Regions from separate parts of the Homo sapiens genome. Here region 2 is linked to region 1. A link means that fine-mapping ties the variant in region 1 to the expression of a gene that starts in the linked region. Tissue or cell type: whole blood. Region 1 holds a variant in brackets; the other region holds the start of a gene. All regions are shown on one strand. Distances are from middle to middle.

Region 1 (10,502 bases):
ATTTTATCTCATACTGTTAGTAGTAGCTTCTTAACTACTACCCATTCTTAACTTTAAGAAGCATAGAATTTAGAATATAGAACGACCGCTTGTATGGCCTGGATCTGGGCACTTAACCTTACTAAGTTTATCTCGTGTAAACTGACCTTGCTAACTCACGTGAGGCTTAAATAATACAATGTGGAAGACTTCAGGGCACATTTTTGGTTTTTTGGTTTTTGTTTGTTTCTTGAGACGGGGTCTCACTCTGTCGCCCAGGCTGGAGTCCAGTTGCACAATCTCGGCTCACTGCAGCCTCCTCATCCTGGGTTCAAGCAGTTCTGCCTTAGCCTCCGGAGCAGCTGGAATTAGGTCGCCCACCACCACGCCCGGCTAATTTTTGTATTTTTAGTAGAGACGGGGTTTCACCATGTTGGCCAGGCTGGTCTCGAAGTCCTGACCTCAGGTGATCCACCCGCCTCGGCCCCCCAAAATGCTGGGATTACAGGCGTGAGCCACTGCGCCCTGCCAAGGACACATTTTTGTATCAAATGGTTAATGATAAAATTAGACTTAAAATAACGTGAAACCTTCAAATATCAAGGGGAGAAAAACAGGAAATGGGTATCTTTGTTTAAAAAGCAAGATGCTATAAACAGCATATGGTAACATACTGTTTTTATTAAACAAATTTAAAATATTAGATAATGGTAGATAGGTTATATGATAACCTTATAAACGTCATTTCAGTCGGAAATAAACTTATTAAACATTAATATTCTAACAATTATTTCATTTACTTTCCATTTACCTTAAGATGAAGCACTGTCATAAAACTGAAAAGCTTAGGAGTCTGAAGATTGGGGTTCAAGTGTCATCCCCAACCCCACCTCTCTATTTTTGGGACAAGGTCTCGCTCTGTCACCAAGGCTGCAGTGCAGTGGTGCGATGTCAGCTCACTGCAGCTTCAGCCTCCTAGGCTCAAGAGATCCTCCCACCTCAGCCTCACCAGTATCTGGGACTAAAGGCGTGCGCCACCACGCCTGACTAATTTCTCTATTTTTTGTAGAGACAGGTTTTGCCATGTTGGCCAGACTGGTCTGGAACTCCTGGCCCCAAGTGATCTGCCCGCCTCGGCCTCCCAAAGTGCTGGCATTACAGGCAAGAGCCACCGCGCCTAGCCCTTTTTTAATTTTTATCTAGACACCTGGGTTATGTTTTTGTGTTTTGTGTTTTTGTTTTTTGTTTTTGAGACAGAGCCTTGCTGTGTTGCCCAGGTTGAAGTGCAGTGGCTCGGTCTCGGTCTCGACTCACTGCAACCTCTGCCTCCCAGTTCAAGCAATTCTCCTGCCTCAGCCTCCCGAGTACCTGAGACTACAGACATGCACCACCACGCCGGGCCAATTTTTGTATTTTTAGTAGAGACGGGGTTTCACCGTATTGGCCAGGCTGGTCTCGAACTCAACCTCAAGCCTCAAGTGATGGGCAGGCCTTGGCCTCCCAAAGCGCTGGGATTAGAAGCGTGAGCCACCAGGCCTGGCCTGGGTTATGTCTTAAATTTTAAACAGATGAATGCTCCAACAGCTAAGTATAGAAAAATCTTCTCTACTTTTTGACTCAAAGCCTGTAAATGAAGAGATTTCTGGAATTTACACGCAAACCAGGCTTCCCTAGAGAATGCCATTTCATAATTTTTAATCTCTTCAACAACCACTTATGTTTATGATATTCCTGACTAAAACAGTATAAATAAAATACTATAATTTTTATTCATTTATTTATCATTATTTTTTGTAGACACAGGACTTCACTGTAACCCAGGCTGGTCTCAAACTCCTGGACTCAAGCAGTCCTCCTGCTTCAGCCTCCGAAAGTGCTGGAATTACAGGCCTAAGCCACTGTACCCAGCCAATACTATATCTATCTCATAAGAAATATGTTTACTTGTAAAAAATGGCTTAGACCTAATTTTTTTTGTTGTTGTTTTTCTTTGAGACGGAGTCTTTCTTGGTCGCCCAGGCTGGAGTTCAGTGGCGCAATCTGGACCCACTGCAACCTCCATCTCCCGGGCTCACGTGATTATCCTGCTTCAGCCTCCTGAGCAGCTGGGACTACAGGCATGTGCCACCAAGCCCAGCTAATTTTTGTATTTTTAGTAGAGACAGGGTTTCACCATATTGGCCACGCTGGTCTTGAACTCCTGATCTCGTGATCCACCTGCCTTGGCCTCCCAAAGTGCTGGGATCACAGGCGTGAGCCACCGCGCCCGGCCCTCTGTTTTTAAATTGGAATTAATGTATTCTCTAACAATAGTACCACACACTGTTTACCCTAATTTCTGAATTCTTATAACTCTTAAAAATCGCTCATTTCATAAGACCCTGTCAGGTATTTCTTTTTATCCCATCAAGTACCAAGGATGACTCTGACCACATGACAAAGGTGGTCTGACCATGCACTTGTTTGATGATGATTTTATCCCTTTTATCATTTGAAACCCTTAGGTCAGACTTACCCAGAATTGAACACTATTTTAAAGAAGGGATAAATCCTGGGAAATCTATTAGCAGTAGAAATAAAGTGTAAATAAAGTTATAAGAAAGTGTATCTTTAGAAAAATTGCTAATCCTGCCAGGCATAGTGATTCATGTCTGTAATCCCAGCTATGCATGAGGCTGAGGCAGGAGGATCCCTTGAGGCCAGCAGTTCAAGGTCAGCCTGGGCAACATAGCGAGACCCAATCTCTGCCAAAAAAAATTTTTTAATTAGGTCTCAAAAACAAATAAATATAAATAAATAAAAACAGAGCCGGGTGCGGTGGCTCACGCCTGTAATCCCAACACTTTGGGAGGCCAAGGTGGGCGGATCACGAAGTCAGGAGATCGAGACCATCCTGGCTAACACGGTGAAACCCCATCTCTACTAAAAATACCAAAAAAAAAAAAAAAAGAAATTAGCTGGGCGTGGTTGCAGGCTCCTGTAATCCCAGCTACTCGGGAGGCTGAGGCAGGAGAATGTCGTGAACCCGGGAGGCGGAGCTTGCAGTGAGCCGAGATCGCGCCATTGCACTCCAACCTGGGTGACAGACCGAGACTCCATCTCAAAAAATAATAACAGGCCAGGCGTGGTGGCTCACTCCTCTAATCCCAGCACTTTGGGAGGCCGAGGTGGGCAGATCACCTGAGGTCGGGAGTTCGAGACCATCCTGACCAACGTACAGGAACCCCATCTCTCCTAAAAATACAAAATTAGCTGGGCGTGGTGGCACATGCCTGTAATCCCAGCTACTCATGAGGCTGAGGCAGGAGAATCACTGGAACCCAGGAGGCGGAGGTTGCAGTGAGCCGAGATCACACCACTGCACTCCACCCTGGGCAACAAGAGCGAAACTCCGTCTCAAAAATAATAATAACTTTAGATGCTACATAGTGCTGTTTCAAAGAGAGAATAAATGAATTAATAAAAAATGAATGGGGAAGAGAAAAAAAGAAGAAGAAAGGAAGAAAAGGAAGGAAAGAAAAGAAGAGAGTTGTATTGAAAAGTAGAGCTTGGCAGTGTTGTAAACGATATCTTAATCCAAAACCCAGATTTAGGTTGGAAAGGTAAAATTCCTTAGAAAATTATAACCAGGTAGGTTCATGTGAAATTTCCTGCTCCATATCCTCTTTTTAAATTTTACTTTATAAACACACATAGTATATATACCAAGAACAAACAATGGAGCAGCTTCTATGCTGTTCAGAACCTTTGAACCATCAGCATATAATTGTCTGTAGTAGCTCCTACTTTAAGATACAGTTTTGAGCACAATGACCAAGATTTATGAGTGTGGAAATGGTTGTAAAATCCTAGGTAAATGTTACAACAATTTTACAAGGATTAAGCCGGACACAATTTATGAGTTTGTTTCCATTTCAAGTAAGAAAGATTTATCTTCCAGTAGAGTTAGAAAGAGACTCTGTCTCAAAAATAAAAATAAAATCGATTATATGTCCACAAATAATAGTCAAATAGCATAACCTGCTGAGTTAAAGACTGGCTTCAGGCCAGGTGTGGTGGCTCACACCTGTAATCCCAGCACTTTGGAGGCCATGGCAGGTGGATCACCTGAGGTCAGGAGTTTCAGACCAGCCTGGCCAACATGGTGAAACCCTGTCTCTACTAAAAATACAAAAATTAGCTGGGTGTGGTGGTGCGTGCCTGTAATCCCAGCTACACAGGAGGCTGAGGCAGGAGAATCGCTTGAACCCAGGAGGTGGAGATTGCAGTGAGCTGAAATCACGCCACTGCACCCCGCTCCAGCCTGGGCGACAGAGTGAGACTCCATCTCAAAAAAAAAAAGACTGGCTTCAGAGGTAACATTACAGTTTCTTAAACCTGGGTCATTGGGGGCTATGCCCCTCTCCGGTGAATTAGGGCAAGAGTTCCTCCGCTGTCTCACTATGGGATGAAGGTCAACTACCCTGTGTGCCGACTTTCCACATTAACTGAATTAATGCCAGAAAAGGAAAGTCTAGAGCCTTTGAAGCAGTTTCATTTCCAAATGTAAAAATGGGTCTTTCTGCTGCTTATTATATCTTTTTAACATTACAGGAAAAACAAATCGTGAATTCAGTGTATTTACATAGTTATGTTAGAAGGCTGACCTGGAACATCATAACAATTTTGATGTGGATAAATCTTTAACAGTATATCAAAGATTCTAGGAGTAGAGCAAGTTACTCAATGTGTTTAACACTCTTAGGATGTGTTTAACACTCTTAGGATGTCTTTAGAAACTGCCGCCCCCATCCACAGAAATACAGGAGTAGACTCCTAGCAGTTCTGGATTTTCTGTGGGATTCCTCAGCATGTACATCTCTGGCCATACCAACTGGACCACAGGTAGACTCATTATCCTAATTGGCTATTTGGATTTTTTTTTTTTTGAGACAGGGTCTTACTCTGTTGCCCAGGCTGGAGTGCAATGGCACAATCTCGGCTCACTGCAGCCTCCACCTCCTGGATTCGAGCAATTCTCATGCCTCAACCTCCCGAGTAGGTGGGATTACAGGCACGTGCCACCACGCCTGGCTAATTTTTGTAATTTTGGTAAAGATGGGGTTTCACCATGTTAGCCAGGATGGTCTCGAACTCCTGGCCTCCAGTGATCCACCTGCGTTGGCCTCCCAAAGTGCTGGGATTACAGGTGTGAGCCACCATGCCCAGCCTGGATTTTTATTCCTAAGAATTTAGAATCAGATCTGAAGAAATACTGTGCCAGTCCATCTTTTCCCAGAGGATGCATCTTACTAACTAGAGACTGTGTCACAGCCATATTCCTGTTTTGAGTACTGGGAGGCAGACAGAGGTTAGTTTTCAGGGAGAAAGAAAGAAGCAGATGTGTGGAGAAAGCAGAGATGAAGCAGAGACTATTCCTGACACTCCAGGCCCTTACTAGGGTCTGTCTGCGTACCAATCACTGAGTTTCATGAAACACCCTAGTTTTGGGGTTTTTTTTTGTTTTGTTTTGTTTTTTGAGACAGTCTCACTTTGTGGCCCAATTGGAGTGCAGTGGAGCGATCTTGGCTCCACTGCAACTTCCGCCTCCCGTGGTTCAAGCGATTCTTGTGGTTCAAGCGATTCTCGTGGTTCAAGAGATTCTTGT[G/A]CCTCAGCCTCCCGAATAGCTGGGACTATAGACGCGTGCCACCACGCCCGGCTAATTTTTGTATTTTCAGTAGAGATGGGTTTTTGTCATATTGGCCAGGTTGGTCTTGAATTCCTGCCCTCAGGTGATCTACCCACCTCTGCCTCCCGAAGTGCTAGGATTACAGGCATGGGCCACCGTGCCCGGCCACATTACTTTTCTTTTTGCTAAAGCAGGCTCTAATTGGCTTCTGTTACATATAAACAAAGGCAATAGTTTTACAAAACATGTCAAGAAAAAGCAATGTGCAAGCAAAACAAAATTTTAAAGTAAATGCATCAAAGTCATAGATGTTAATGCTTCAAGAGAATTATATGTATATGACCACCATTAGAATTAAAGGGGTAGGGTGGGCTATTGATAAATCTAATTCAGTTTATAAAGAGCACTGAAGTCCTGGATTTTTTTTTTTTTTTTTTTGAGACAGTGTCTGGCTGTGTCATCCCGGCTGGAGTGCAGTGGCACAGTCGGCTCACTGCAGCCTCTGCTTCCCAGGCTCAAAAGCTGAAGAGGTCCTCCCACTTTAGCCTCCCAAGTAGCTTGGAGTACAGAAGTGAGCTGCCACATCTGGCTAATCTTTGTGTTTTTTGCAGAGACGGGGTTTCACCATGTTGCCCAGGCTGGTCTGGAACTCCTGAGCTCAAGCAATCCACCCACCTTGGCCTCCCAAATTGCTAGGATTACAGGGGGATTACAAGTGTGAGCCACCACTCCCAGCCTGACCTGGCCTTTTGACCTGTGCTTGAATTGCTTTATAGAGCTCTTAGAATAATTTAATGTATTCCTCATACCATAACAATAGTTGTCTTAATGTGGGAATAGAAAAAAAAAATCAGAGTCACTGGAGTTTTTCAGCCAGTATCATTTGCCCTAAACAAAAGGTAAGCATAAAATTAATACAATAGAATTCACTTCCAGGGAGATAGAGTAGGCATACTTTTTCCAATTCTTTTTCTAAGTACAACTAAAAACCCGAGGCATTACAAATACAAGAAGCATAAGAAGACTTTGACAGCTGGCGAGAAGGAGGCAGGCTGGCTAGCGACCTGGAAACCCAAGGAATGACTTAGTGGTAAGTTTCTTGCTGCTTTTTTGTCCTTATATCTTCCAAACCTGGAACTTAAGAAGTTGAAACCTTGAAATATGAAAGAAGCTCCAAGAGAAGCCTTCTCTCTTTAGCCAAATGATGAGGAAAGTGCAGGAAGACAGACAGCCAAAGGACCAGAAGAAAGCCTAGAAAGGCAGAAAACTTTTAGAAAATAACCATGTCAGCCAAACACCAAAGAAAAATCTGTAGCCCCACTTCCACCAATGGTAATAAAGGCCAGGTGGAGAGCTATCAACCTAAAGGGAAAAAAACTGAGGCAATCTTAATATAAGTAGAGAGTGTACTTGGGCCAAGTCTGAGGACTGCAAACGAGGAGTGTAGATCCAAGTTGCTCTGAATATACTCTAATTAGCAGTCATTACAAATGTGTTTCTCTTTCTTTCTTTCTTTTCTTTTTTTTTTTTTTTTTTCCTGAGACGGAGTCTCACTCTGTCGCTCAGGCTGGAGTGCAGTGGCTGGATCTCGGCCCACTGCAACCTCTGCCTCCTGCCTCAGCCTGCCGAGTAGCTGAGACTACAGGCATGCGCCACCACACCTGGCTACTTTTTTTTGTATTTTTAGTTGAGATGGAGTTTCACTATGTTGGCCAGACTGGTCTCAAACTCCGGATCTCCAGCGATCCACCTACCTCGGCCTCCCAAAGCGCTGGGATTACAGGCATGAGCCACCGTGCCCGGCCACAAGTGTGTTTCTGAAGGAAATAGGCAGTTCCTAGATTGTTTACCAAGAATTTACATTAAAATAACTGAAGCTATTGATTGGCTATACATTGTTCGTTGTATCACAAGTTCCAGGAACATGAAGACAATGGGTGAGGCAGCTAGTCCGGAACAAAATACTAGTCAGGAGCAATTGCCGCCAGCCTGGAGTGGTGGCTCAGTTGAGCTCAGGAGTTCGAGACTTGGGCAACATGGTGAAACCCCATCTTTACAAAATACAAAAATTTAGCTGGGTGTGGTGGCGCATGCCTGTAGTCCCAGCTCCTCAGGAGGCTAAAGTGGGAGGACTGCTTGAGCCCAGGAAGTTGAGGCTGCAGTGAACAGATATTGTGCCACTGCTCTCCAGCCTGAGCGACACTCAAAAAAAAAAATGCCCCCAGACATGAGTGGGGAGGTGCCTGAAGGCCCATACTCATGTCTCTGGGCCTGATAAGTTTTACATACCTCACAGAGCTCAGACTGTTCGTAGCTGTCTTTCTTTTCTTAGAGCCTAGGCATCCGCACTTGCCAGGCTCTTAATGAGGTGCCCCAATCTCTTGTCCCCTCACCAAGTTGAGTAGGGAACAGGGTTGTCCATCCCCACCAGGTGATAATGAGCCCCACCTAAATTCTTGGTGTCAATGGAGATCACTTGGGGAACCTGGATTTCTACTTCCCTTTGGCAGTAGGAGGCATCGTACCCTGCCCTGCTGGGGTGGATCAGAGGAGGCCTACTGGAAAGTCAGGATTTTCACTATAAGGAGTCCAGTTCCCTCTCCCACCACTGCTTCCTTCTGATATTGTGATATATTAATAAGAGATCTATATTTGATTTTTGGTCCCAGTTTCTTGCACAAAACTTCTGAGACCCTTGGAATTTCCTGACTGATAGATGTGAGGGGCACATCTTTTGTTATTCATCACGTTAACTAAAAATGAAATCCTAAGCCCTGCAACTGACTGAATGAACCACCTCTTGGCCAAGAGGACCCCAAAGAAACCTTAAAAACTGAGTTCCCAGCTATAACGAGATAGGAGGTCAGACATGCCTCTTTGTACCCCCTCCCTGTTGCAGTTTAGACACAACTGACCATCATTGATGTTAAAATAGAGATCATAAGATTGACAAAACAGGTTGGGCACAGAGCCTCATGTCTGTAATCCCAATACTTTGAGAGCCCGAGGCGAAGGATTGCTTGAGTCCAGGAGTTAGAGACCAGCCTGTGTAACTGCCCAATGGGTTCACCTTGCCCACTGTTTAGGCAGAGCCGATTTATCAAGACAGGGGAATGGCAATAGAGAAAGTTATTCATGCAGAGCCAGCTGTGCTGGAGACCAGAGTTTTATTGTTATTCGAATCAGTCTCCCGGAGCATTCAGGGATCAGAGTAGGATTTTTGTTGTTTTGTTTTTCGTTTTTTTTGAGAGGTAGTCTCACTCTGTTGCCCAGGCTGGAGTGCAGTGGTGCAATCTCACTGCAACCTCAGCCTCCCAGCAAGGGAGGCAAGCGATTCTCCTGCCTCAGCCTCTCGAGTAACTGGGATTACAGGCGTGCCATCACGCCAGACTAATTTTTGTATTTTTAGTAGAGATGGGTTTTTGCCATGTTGGCCAGGCTGGTCTCAAATTGATCCGCCCGCCTCTGCCTCCCAAAGTGCTGGGATTACAGACGTGAGCCACCCCACCGAGCCCAGGATCGGAGTTTTTAAGGACAACTTGGTGGGTGAGGGGGCAGCCAGTGAGTCAAGAGTGCTGATTGGTCAAGTAGGAGACGAAATGGAAGGGAGTTGAAGCTTTCCTCTTGCGCTGAGTCAGTTCCTGGGTGGGGGCAACAAGATCACATGAGTCAATGTATCAGTCTGGGTGGTGCCAGTTGATCCATCAAGTTCAGAGTTTGCAAAATATCTCAAGCACTGATCTGAATCTTTACAATAGTGATGTTAGCCCCAGGAGCAATTTGGGAAGGGTCAGAATCTTATCGCCTCCAGCTGCATGACTCCTAAACCATAATTTTTAATCTTTTGGCTAGTTTGTTAGTCCCACAAAGGCAGCCTAGTCTCCAGGCAAGAAAGGGGTTTGTTTTGGGAAAGGGCTGTTATCATCTTTGCTTTAAACCATAAACTAAAAACTAAGTGCCTCCCAAAGTTACTTTGGCCTATGCCCAGGAATGAACAAGGACAGATAGGAGATTAGAAGCAAGTTGGAGTTGGTTAGGTTCAGATCTCTTTCCCTGCGTCAGTTCCAATTTTGCAATGGGGTTTCACTTGAACACCACAGGGAGACCACCCTCCCACCCTCCGCATCTACAAAAGTAAAATAAAATAAAATTAGCTGGTCATGGTGGTGCACACCCGTGGTACCAACTACTTGGAAGGGTGAGGTGGAGGATCACTTGAGCCTGGAGTTCGAGGCTGCAGTGAGCCATGATTGTGCCCTGGCACTCCAGCCTGGGTAACAGAGCAAGACCCTGTCTCAAAAAGACTGACAGAAGGGCACAGTAGCTCACGGCTGTAATCCCAACACTTTGGGAGGCCGAGGCGGGCAGATCACCTGAGGTCGGGAGTTCGAGACCAGCCTGACCAATATGGAGAAACCCCGTCTCTACTAAAAATACAAAATTAGCCACGTGTGGTGGCACATGCCTGTAATCCCAGCTACACAAGAGGCTGAGGCAAGAGAATGACTTGAACCTGGGAGGCGGAGGTTGTGGTGAGCCAAGATCGCGCCATTGCACTCCAGCCTGGGCAAAAGAGCGAAGCTCCATCTCAAAAAAAAAAAAAAAAAAAAAAAGACTGACAGAACAGATTATCTTTATGATAATAAGATACAAATTATAAACAGGATCTAAGGCCATGCCAGGCAAGTGTTAAGCCATGCACTCCTACACTTAAAGAATAACCTATGTCCTAACCACCACAAGGTTTTTCTTTTTCTCTAGCAGCTAAATAAGCACTGGCCTTGAGATAAACAATGTTGAAGCAGTTGCAGCTTACAACCACCACATGCTGACCAACTGACTTTGTTCCATAAGC
Region 2 (9,171 bases), 35 kb after region 1:
CTTAGAAATAACCACTATTCTGACTTCGTGGCATTCTCTTGTTATTCTTAATGGTTTTTAGTGCCTGAATATATCTCTAAATAATATTTGAACGGTCTTTACTACCGGAAAGTTCTTCCTTATGTTAAGATTTAATCCATTGCCCTAAAATTTTTTCATTAGTACTTTCTTTAACCCTTGGGGTTATAAATAACAAATTTAGCATTATTTTTACCCAGAAGAACCACAACTATTTTTTGTATTACATGGTTTCAATTGAATTCCACTATTCTGTTTGTTCCATTTGTATGTCTTTCTGGGAAAATATGATTCCCCAGTACACAACAATGTATTCTATCTCTGATTTACTCTCTAAGCATAGGACTGAAAAATCCCATCTCTCATTCTAGATTCCAGACATCTATTGATGAGGCCAAACATAGTGATGGTTAATGCTAAGCTTATAAGAGACTAAAATATTTTATATAAGACAGTGCCTGGGGCTCAGTTTCGGGCTACTGAAAAAAGAAATGGGAATGGTTTCCTTATAAAAGGATGAGTTTGGTCCTCTTGTCTCTCTCATTCTCTCGTTGCTCTTCCACCATGGGATGTAACACCAAGAAAGCCCTTTCAAGATGCCAGTCCTTTGATCTTGGACTTCCTAGTCTCCAGGACTGTGAGGCATTAAATTTATGTTCTTTATAAATTACTTAGTTTGTGGTGTTCTGTTATAGTAGTGTAAAATGAATTATGGGAACAAATAAAATTTGCATATATTTGAGGTGTGTATATATATATAAATATGTTATATATTATATAAATATATTATACATATTATATAAATATTATATAAATATATTATACATATTATATAAATATATTATACATATATCTATATATATAAATATTATATATATATATATTTTTTGAGACAGGGTTTCCCTCTTGTTGCCCAGGCTAGAGTACAATGGCACAGTCTCGGCTCTTTGCAACCTCCACCTCCTGGGTTCAAGTGATTCTCCTGCCTTAGCCTCCCAAGTAGCTGGGATTACAGATGCCTGCCACCACGCCCGGCTAATTTTTGTATTTTTAGTAGAGACAGGGTTTCAGCATGTTGACCAGGCTGATCTTGAACTCCCAACCTCAGGTTATACACCCACCTTGGCCTCCCAAAGTGCTGGGATTACAGGCGTGAGCCACTGCAGCCGGCCAATTTTTTTTTTTTTTTTTTTTTTTTTTTTTTATTAGACAGGGTGTTACTCTGAAGCTCCTGCTGGAGTGTGGTGGCACAATTATGGCCACCATGCCTTGACCTCCTGGGCTGAAGGGATCCTCCTGCCTCAGCCTCCCATGTAGCTGGGACCATAGGTACATGCCATCACACCTGGCTAATTTTTTTATTTTTTTGTAGAGATTGGTGAGGGGGCCTCACTATGTTGTCCGGGCTGGTCTTCTGGGCTCAGGCCATCTGCCAGCCTTGGCCTCCCAAGGTGTTGGAATTATAGGTGTGAGCAACCCGGCCCAGCCATGTGATGTTTTGATGTATGTATACACTGTGAGATGATTACTACAATCAAGCCAATTAACACATCCATAACCTCACACTTTGTATGTGTGTATTTGATATCCACTTTCTTAGCAAATTTCTGTTTTTTATTTTAATTTAACTTTTATTTTAAGTTCATGGGGTATATGTGCAGGTTTGTTATATAGGTAAATTTGTGTCATGGGGTTTGTTTTACAGGTTATTTCATCACCCAGGTATTAAACCTAGTACCCATTAGTTATTTTTGCTGACCCTCTCCCTCCTCCCATTCTCCACCCTCTGATAAGCGCCAGTGTGTGCTGTTCCCCTCCATGGGTCCATGTGTTCTCATCATTCAGCTCCCATTTATAAGTGAGAACATACGGTATTTGGTTTTCTGTTCCCATGCAAATTTCAAGCATACAATACATTACTATGAACTATAATCAGCATGTTGTACATTAAGTCTCCATAACTTACTCTACTTACAACCGAAAGTTTGTGCATTTTGACCAGTATCTTCCCATTTCCCCTACATCCCAAGTCCTGGAAACCACATTTCTGCTGTCTGTTTCTATGAGAAACTTCTAGATTCCACGTATAAGTGAGATCATGCAGTATTTGTCTTTTTATGTCTGGCTTATTTCACTTAGCATAATGTCCTCCAGGTTCATCCATGTTGTTAAATCCATGCCAGTTGCAAACAGCAAGATTTATTTCTTTTTTGAAAGCTGAATAATATTCCACTGTATGTATGTATGTGTGTGTGTGTGTGTGTGTACATATATATTTGCACTCATTATCCGTTCATCCATTGATGAAAAGTAGATTATCCCTATATCTTGGCTATTGTGAATAATGCTGCAATGAACATGAACATATATCTTCAGGATAGTGATGTTGTTGCTAGATCACATGGTAATTCTATTCTTAATTTTGTGAGGAGCCTTTATACTGTTTTGCACAATGGCTCTACTAATTTACATTCCCATCAACAGCATACAAAAGTTCCCTGTTCTCCACCTTCTCCCCAATGCTTTCATATTTTGGGCCATTCTGTATGGTTTACTGTACCGTATGACAGTAATGCTGTGCAGTATGTGCTATAGCCATTTTTGCATCTACTGGTACCAGTTCTGAAATAGCAGCGGCGCCCTTTCTGTTTAGAGTCGCCTTCTGGTGGTAGGAATTCTGGTTGCTACCATGTGTAGCCTGCAAGCCTCTAGCAGCTCTTTTGCAGCGACGCCGAGCGCCGGGCGCGGTGGCGCGTGCCTGTAGTCCCAGCTACTCGGGAGGCTGAGGCTGGAGGATCCCTTGAGTTCAGGAGTTCTGGGCTGTAGTGCGCTATGCCGATCGGGTGTCCGCACTGAGTTCGGCATCAATATGGTGACCTCCCGGGAGCGGGGGACCACCAGGTTGCCTAAGGAGGGGTGAACCGGCCCAGGTCGGAAACGGAGCAGGTCAAAACTCCCGTGCTGATCAGTAGTGGGATTGCGCCTGTGAATAGCCACTGCACTCCAGCCTGGGCAACATAGTGAGACCCTGCCTCTTTTGAGTTCTCACCTTATAAAGTAGCCTTTCTTCCCATGCATCTATCCTAAGACAAAAGAAATGCAGAATTTACATTCTTACAGGACTATTTTCCTCACTACACTGTGAATCCCCCCTCCCACCCCACCCCCATTGGGAATCTTCTTGTTTTTATTTTTATCTTATTTCACCATTATCTAGCTAAACACTTGCACATTCATGCTGCCAAGTGTTTATGGAGCACCGATTGTACACCAGGTACTGCGGTGAGTCTCAGGGGTACCAAGACCGAGGTTCGATGAGAATCCTGTAATCAATTGCAGAATGCTCCTTCCGAGAGCAGGACCCATCAAAATAGGAACTCCGTTTTGAGAGTTCGCCTCGATCGTTGAGGATAATCTTAGAAGGACCGAAGCAGTTCCGTTTCGTTACATTTCAAAATCTTATGTCAAAGTAAGCGCGCAGAAAGGGGTCCTTGCTCTTCTACACTGAGCCCTACGGCCCCCCTGTGGGGAAATACTCCTGATAATCATCTCGAAAATTGTTTCGACCAGCAGGGGTCACTATGAAGGCTGACTTGAGCCCAAGACACAATGGGGCACGGTAACCAGACTGGTCCGTAAGGGTTCCAGGAAGGAATGCAGTTTCAAGAGAACAGTTTGAATCTTTATTCGAATTTGAATTTTGGTACAATGAAGAGAGTCAGCTGCAACTTGACAATCGAAATCTTCAGAAAAGCGACACAAATACGTTCGCCTCGAGGAATATTGGGTCTTCTGCGCGGCCGTAGAGCTCCGCCAAGTGCGCCTGCGCGGAGGAGAAGTGGCGTCGAGTCCGGCCGGGCAGTAGAGGAACTTGCGGTAGTGACCCTCGGGCCTCGCCATGAAGAGCCGCTTTAGCACCATTGACCTCCGCGCCGTACTCGCGGAGCTGAATGCTAGGTACAGTACCCTAAGTGACGAGGCTCGTGTGGGGAGTGCAGGAGGCAGAGGCCGGAGTCCCATGGCGCAAACAGACCAGCTTGATATGTTTCCTTATTTCCTAGTGCGTCTATGGACCTGCCTAGGCCTGAGTGGGCAGGCGTGTGGTGTCTTTCCCGTGACCCTTAGGATACCCCTGGGGGTCCCAGGCACCTCGTGCCCCATCCCCCGCGTCCTCCCAGCTCTCTGGCTTGCCCCGCTAGCGCGAAGCTCTTGCATTGTTGGCCTGGGTTGTCCGGGTTGGGCAGGAAACGTTTGTTAAAACACGAGACGCCAGAGTGGTCGTTTGCTTCAGAGGTTTCCAGACTGGGGGCTTGGTTTCTTGAACACCTCCCTCCCCTCACCCCAGAGAGAGAGAGAGCATCGCGGTTTTAGCTGGATTGAGCAGATTTGGACTGAGATCTGGATTCTAGTCTGGATTCTATTATTCAGCCCTGTGAGCTTTGTCATATTTTCGGGGCCCTCTTTTATCTTTTTTTTTTCTCCCTTGTAATAAATTAATTGGATTATATTTTACTGTATTTCTCCCCCAAAATTGGGTCATTTGGAAGACGCAAGCTATAGTGTGTTGTTCCTAGAGCTGATAGACCACTTCTGTTTTTAAATCGTTACTCTTAAGTTTTGAACTGAATCTCCAAATGGCTTTCAGACTCTGCTCCTCGGCTGACTCCATATCCTTAGAGACTGAGATCCGCTCTTTCGAAGCTTTTATTAAATTATGTGTAGTTTTATGTTTCAGACAATAGTGTAACATGTTACATGTTTCCTTTATCTTTGCAGCTTGCTAGGAATGAGAGTAAACAATGTTTATGATGTGGATAATAAGACATACCTTATTCGTCTTCAAAAGTAAGAACATTTTATAGGCTTATTTTCTCTTTGACAATTAAGTATGAGATTACTGATTTTTTTTAACCTACATTTTAAGCCTGTTTAGCAATTAGCTTTGGCATATACCCTAAAGAAAAATTCGACTTTTTTCTTCTACAGACCGGACTTTAAAGCTACACTTTTACTTGAATCTGGCATACGAATTCATACAACAGAATTTGAGTGGCCTAAGAATATGATGCCGTCTAGTTTTGCCATGAAGGTAAACTTGTTACGCTTGAAGCTAAATTTTAAGAGATTGCTCACTAACAATTAAGTTTTTAATTGGGGTTTCCTTCACTGTTACGAATAAAGTGCAGATAAAATGAAGGTAAAGGGAGTGGTTGACAGATAATGGGTTGAATAAAGTGAATATTTATTAATTGATTTCTCCCCATTACCTTTCACATCCTGTTCTGCTCCAGATCTTCTGTTTCCACAGTCACTATTAGAGTTCAAGCTTTTATCACATTCAGCCTTACAGTTCCTTAACTGTAATTCACTTCTCTGCATCAAAACAATTCTAAATTAGACCAACGTTAATTTTTTTGTTTTTGTTTGTTTGTTTTTTTGTTCGTTTTTGAGAAGGAGTCTCGCTCTGTCACCCAGGCTGGAGTGCAGTGGCACAGTCTTGGCTCACTGCAACCTCTGCCTCCCAGGTTCAAGTGATTCTCTTGCCTCAGCCTCCTCAGTAGCTGGGATTACAGGCGTGTGCCACCAGACCCGGCTAATTTCTCTATTTTTAGTAGAGATGGGGTTTCACCATGTTGGCCAGTCTGATCTCAAATGCGTGACCTCAGGTGATCCGCCAGCCTCAGCCTCCTGAAGTGCTGGGATTACAGGCATGAGCCACCGCGCCTGGCCCAACATTAATTTTTTTAAAGTATAATTTTCATTAGTTACCTCACCTTTTATGGTTTCCTGATTTCTAAATCCATATTCTATAGCCTAACATTCTTGGCTTTCTGTGTTCTTTCTCCTCCCTGCCCCACCTTTTTTTCCTAGTCTTATCTTCCAGAGCTCACTTTTGTGAGTCGTATTCCTCTGTACCCAGTCAGTATTTTTTTTTTTTTGGAATACTCACTGACATTAATATGTTACTAAGTCTTTTTATTTTTCTGTTTTGTTTTTACTATTAAAACAGATTTTTACATGGGTGGGCATGCTACCCATTCTTTTATTGATGTAACATATAGATTGAAAATTCATGTGGTACACGAGACTTTCGAGTCACATATACTTAACTTTGAATTAATAGCTTTGTCAGAAAGTAATTTTATAACCTGGAAAAGTTACTTAACCTCTTGGAATTTAGTTTCTTTAAATGTAAAATGTGGATAGTACCTCCTTCATGAAATTATTGGATTAATTGAAATGATATATAAAACACCTAAAACAGACCAGGTGCGGTGGCTCATGCCTGTAATTCCAACACTTTGGGAGGCTGAGGCAGGTGGATCACTTGAGGTCAGAAGTTCAAGGCCAGCCCAGCCAACATGGTGAAACCCTGTCTCTACTAGCCAGGCGTGGTGGCACACACCTGTAATTCCAGCTACTTGGGAGGATGGGGCAGGAGAACCACTTGAACCTGGGAGATAGAGATTGCAGTCAGCTGAGTTCGCACTGTTTCACTCCAGCCTGGGCGACAGAGCGAGACTCCATCTAAAAAAAAAAGAAAGGCACCTGAAACAATACCTGACACATATTAGAACTCCATACATGTTCATTTCCTTCCTGCTCCGCTCCTTACTTTGGCAATGTATCTGTTATGGCATTGAGTTATTTCATTAGAGGCTTTACAGAGAAGAGCTTTACCCCCCAGCAATTTAGAGTCTGTTTTGGATTACAAATTAGGTAAGTGTTTCCATATCACAAGGGCTTTCACAAAATTCTCAGATTATTAAAGTTTAATTTATTTAATAGTAACCCAAAATAGTTCTTTTGGGGCCTGTCCTTAATAATAATGACAATAATAATGCTACCTGTTGTGTAGCACTTTTTAAGGCAGATGAATAATATGTATTTCATTTAAGTTGTTTAGCAACTCAGTGGACTGTGAAGAACAAATACAATTTCAGTTTTATGGATGAGGTAACAGGCCAATGAAATAGGACACTGGGATTGTGTAAACATCTCCAAATCAGACTACACTAATAGGTCAGTCACTTTAAAAAATACTTAGAATTCTATGGGTTAGGTGTACGTGTCAATCTAAATGTATAGAAAGATTTCCTCAATGGAGCAGACAATGTTAAGCACTTTATAAATCAAAGAGCTGTTACTGTTGCATGGCACAGGCAGAGTTATGTCTATTATGTGATAAATCACAGTGGTTGTTCCAGTATTCACATTTGGGGATGACAGCTATAGCTTTGTGGCACACAGCAGCAGGTTGATTTCACCAAGCTGTTGATAGGGAAATGAAACAAGCTTTAAATATGTACTATGTGTCCATCTGTACTCTCCATGATAAATAATCCCCTTTTTACTATTCCTTTGTGTGAACTTCTGTCCTTTCAATGATGCCTTTTGTCTTTATTTTTCTTGAATAAAATTATTACTCAGGGACTCTGGAAGAACTGATTGTGATTTTCCTCTAGGGATTTAAAGATAGCCCTACATGTAGGTTACTGTTTAATCAAATCAGTATAGGTCATTCTTAAAACTACTGAGTTAAGGAGGAGCAGATTGTTTATCCTAGGAAGTTATTCTGCCTATGTGAGTATATAAAATGCGAATTTCAGTCAATTTGGGCTATAAGGTCTGGAGAAGAACTCTTCTTAGTTATGAAAATGTTAGCATTAATTTTAATAATGAATTTATGTGTTTATTGTTGTTTTTTTTCAACCTTTGTCAAGGAGTGGATTTTTTGTCTTTTTTTTGAAGGTGGTCTTAGATTAACTTCTGTAAAATTTGTTTCGTATTTAAGTCTTTTTTTTTTTTTTTTTTTTTGAGACGGAGTCTTGCTCTGTCACCAGGCTGGAGGGCAGTGGCGCAGTCTTGGCTCACTGCAACTTCAGTCTCCTGGGTTCAAGTGATTCTCGTGTCTCAGCCTCCCAAGTAGCTGGGATTACAGGCACACGCCACCATGCCTGGCTAATTTTTGTATTTTTAGTAGAGATGGGGTTTCACCATGTTGGCCAGGCTGGTCTTGAACTCCTGACGTTGTGATCCGCCTGCCTCGGCCTCCCAGAGTGCTGGGATTACAGGCGTGAGCTGCCATACCCAGACCGTATTTGAGTCTTGAAGAAAGCATTCTTTCTTATTGGTCTTAACTAAAGGGTCTTTTATATTAAAAAATTAGAAACAATTGTAAGATATTTTAGAGGCTACAGAGTAGTCTTGTTACCAGTCCATGTCATACTTCAATATTTGTACAAAAAGACGGTACATGTAATCTAAAAGAGTAGGTATTGCCAAGTAAATTGTATTTGGATTTGATATACTAATATTATTTTAATTGTTAATAAGAAAAAGAACCTTATGGCCAGGGATAGGAGGAAGGGGATTTAATAAAGAATGAGAGTTATTACATTGGATTGAAATAGGTTATCAAAAGCTTAGAGACGATACCAGGAAAATTCTCTTTGGGTTATATTAGTAAAGTTTGTAGGAATAAGCTGGGCACAGTGGCAGGGCACTTGTAATCCTAGCTACTTGGGAGGCTAAGGTGGGAGATTGCTTGAGTCCAGGAGTTTGAGCCTTGCCTGGGCAACAGAGAGACTCTGTCCCTTTCTTTTTTTTTTTTTTTTTTGAGACAGAGTCTTGCTCTGTTGCCCAGGCTGGATTGCAGTAGTGTCATCTCGGCTCACTGTAACCTCCGCCTCTTGGGTTCAAGCGATTCTTTTGCCTCAGCCTCCTGAGTAGCTGGGATTACAGGCATGCGCCAGCACGCCCAGCTAATTTTTGTATTTTTAGTAGAGATGGGGTTTCACCATATTGGCCAGGCTGGTCTTGAACTCCTGACCTCAAGTGATCCACCTACCTCGGCCTCCCAAAGTGTTGGGATTACAGGCCTGAGCCACCGCTCCTGGCAAAGACTCTCTTAAAGAAAAAAAAAAAAAAAAAAAAAAAAAAAAGAATTGGTAGGGGTAACTGGATATAAGGTGGTGGACTATTTACAGGATACCATAAGCCATAAGCTCATGGTCCATAGTTGATATGTATTAGAAGTAGAAGATTAGTGGAAACAATTAATTAATTTTGAACATAAATGAAGCATACAAAAGGGAAATTTGGCATACTTAGAAGTGTCATCAAAGAGACTTAAAAAAAATAAAGGGACTG

What was found. PIP is the estimated chance that this variant, and not a neighbour inherited with it, causes the effect.
Region 2: it holds the start of NEMF, and the variant in region 1 is fine-mapped to the expression of NEMF in whole blood (INTERVAL, PIP above 0.99).

What each region holds. Positions count from the first base shown.
Region 1 is chr14:49,881,794-49,892,295 of GRCh38, reverse strand. No RefSeq gene overlaps it. Among named protein-coding and RNA genes, the nearest start is that of ARF6, 6.0 kb to the left of the region's middle. RefSeq lists an enhancer at 9,022-9,605. The variant G/A (reference allele first, on the strand shown) is at 5,627.
Region 2 is chr14:49,847,499-49,856,669 of GRCh38, reverse strand. It overlaps NEMF (nuclear export mediator factor), which reads left to right and starts at 3,882. Exons shown (of 33, transcript NM_004713.6): 1 at 3,882-3,975; 2 at 4,795-4,863; 3 at 5,005-5,107. The coding sequence starts at 3,917. It also overlaps RN7SL3. RefSeq lists a silencer at 2,773-2,832 and an enhancer at 3,636-3,875.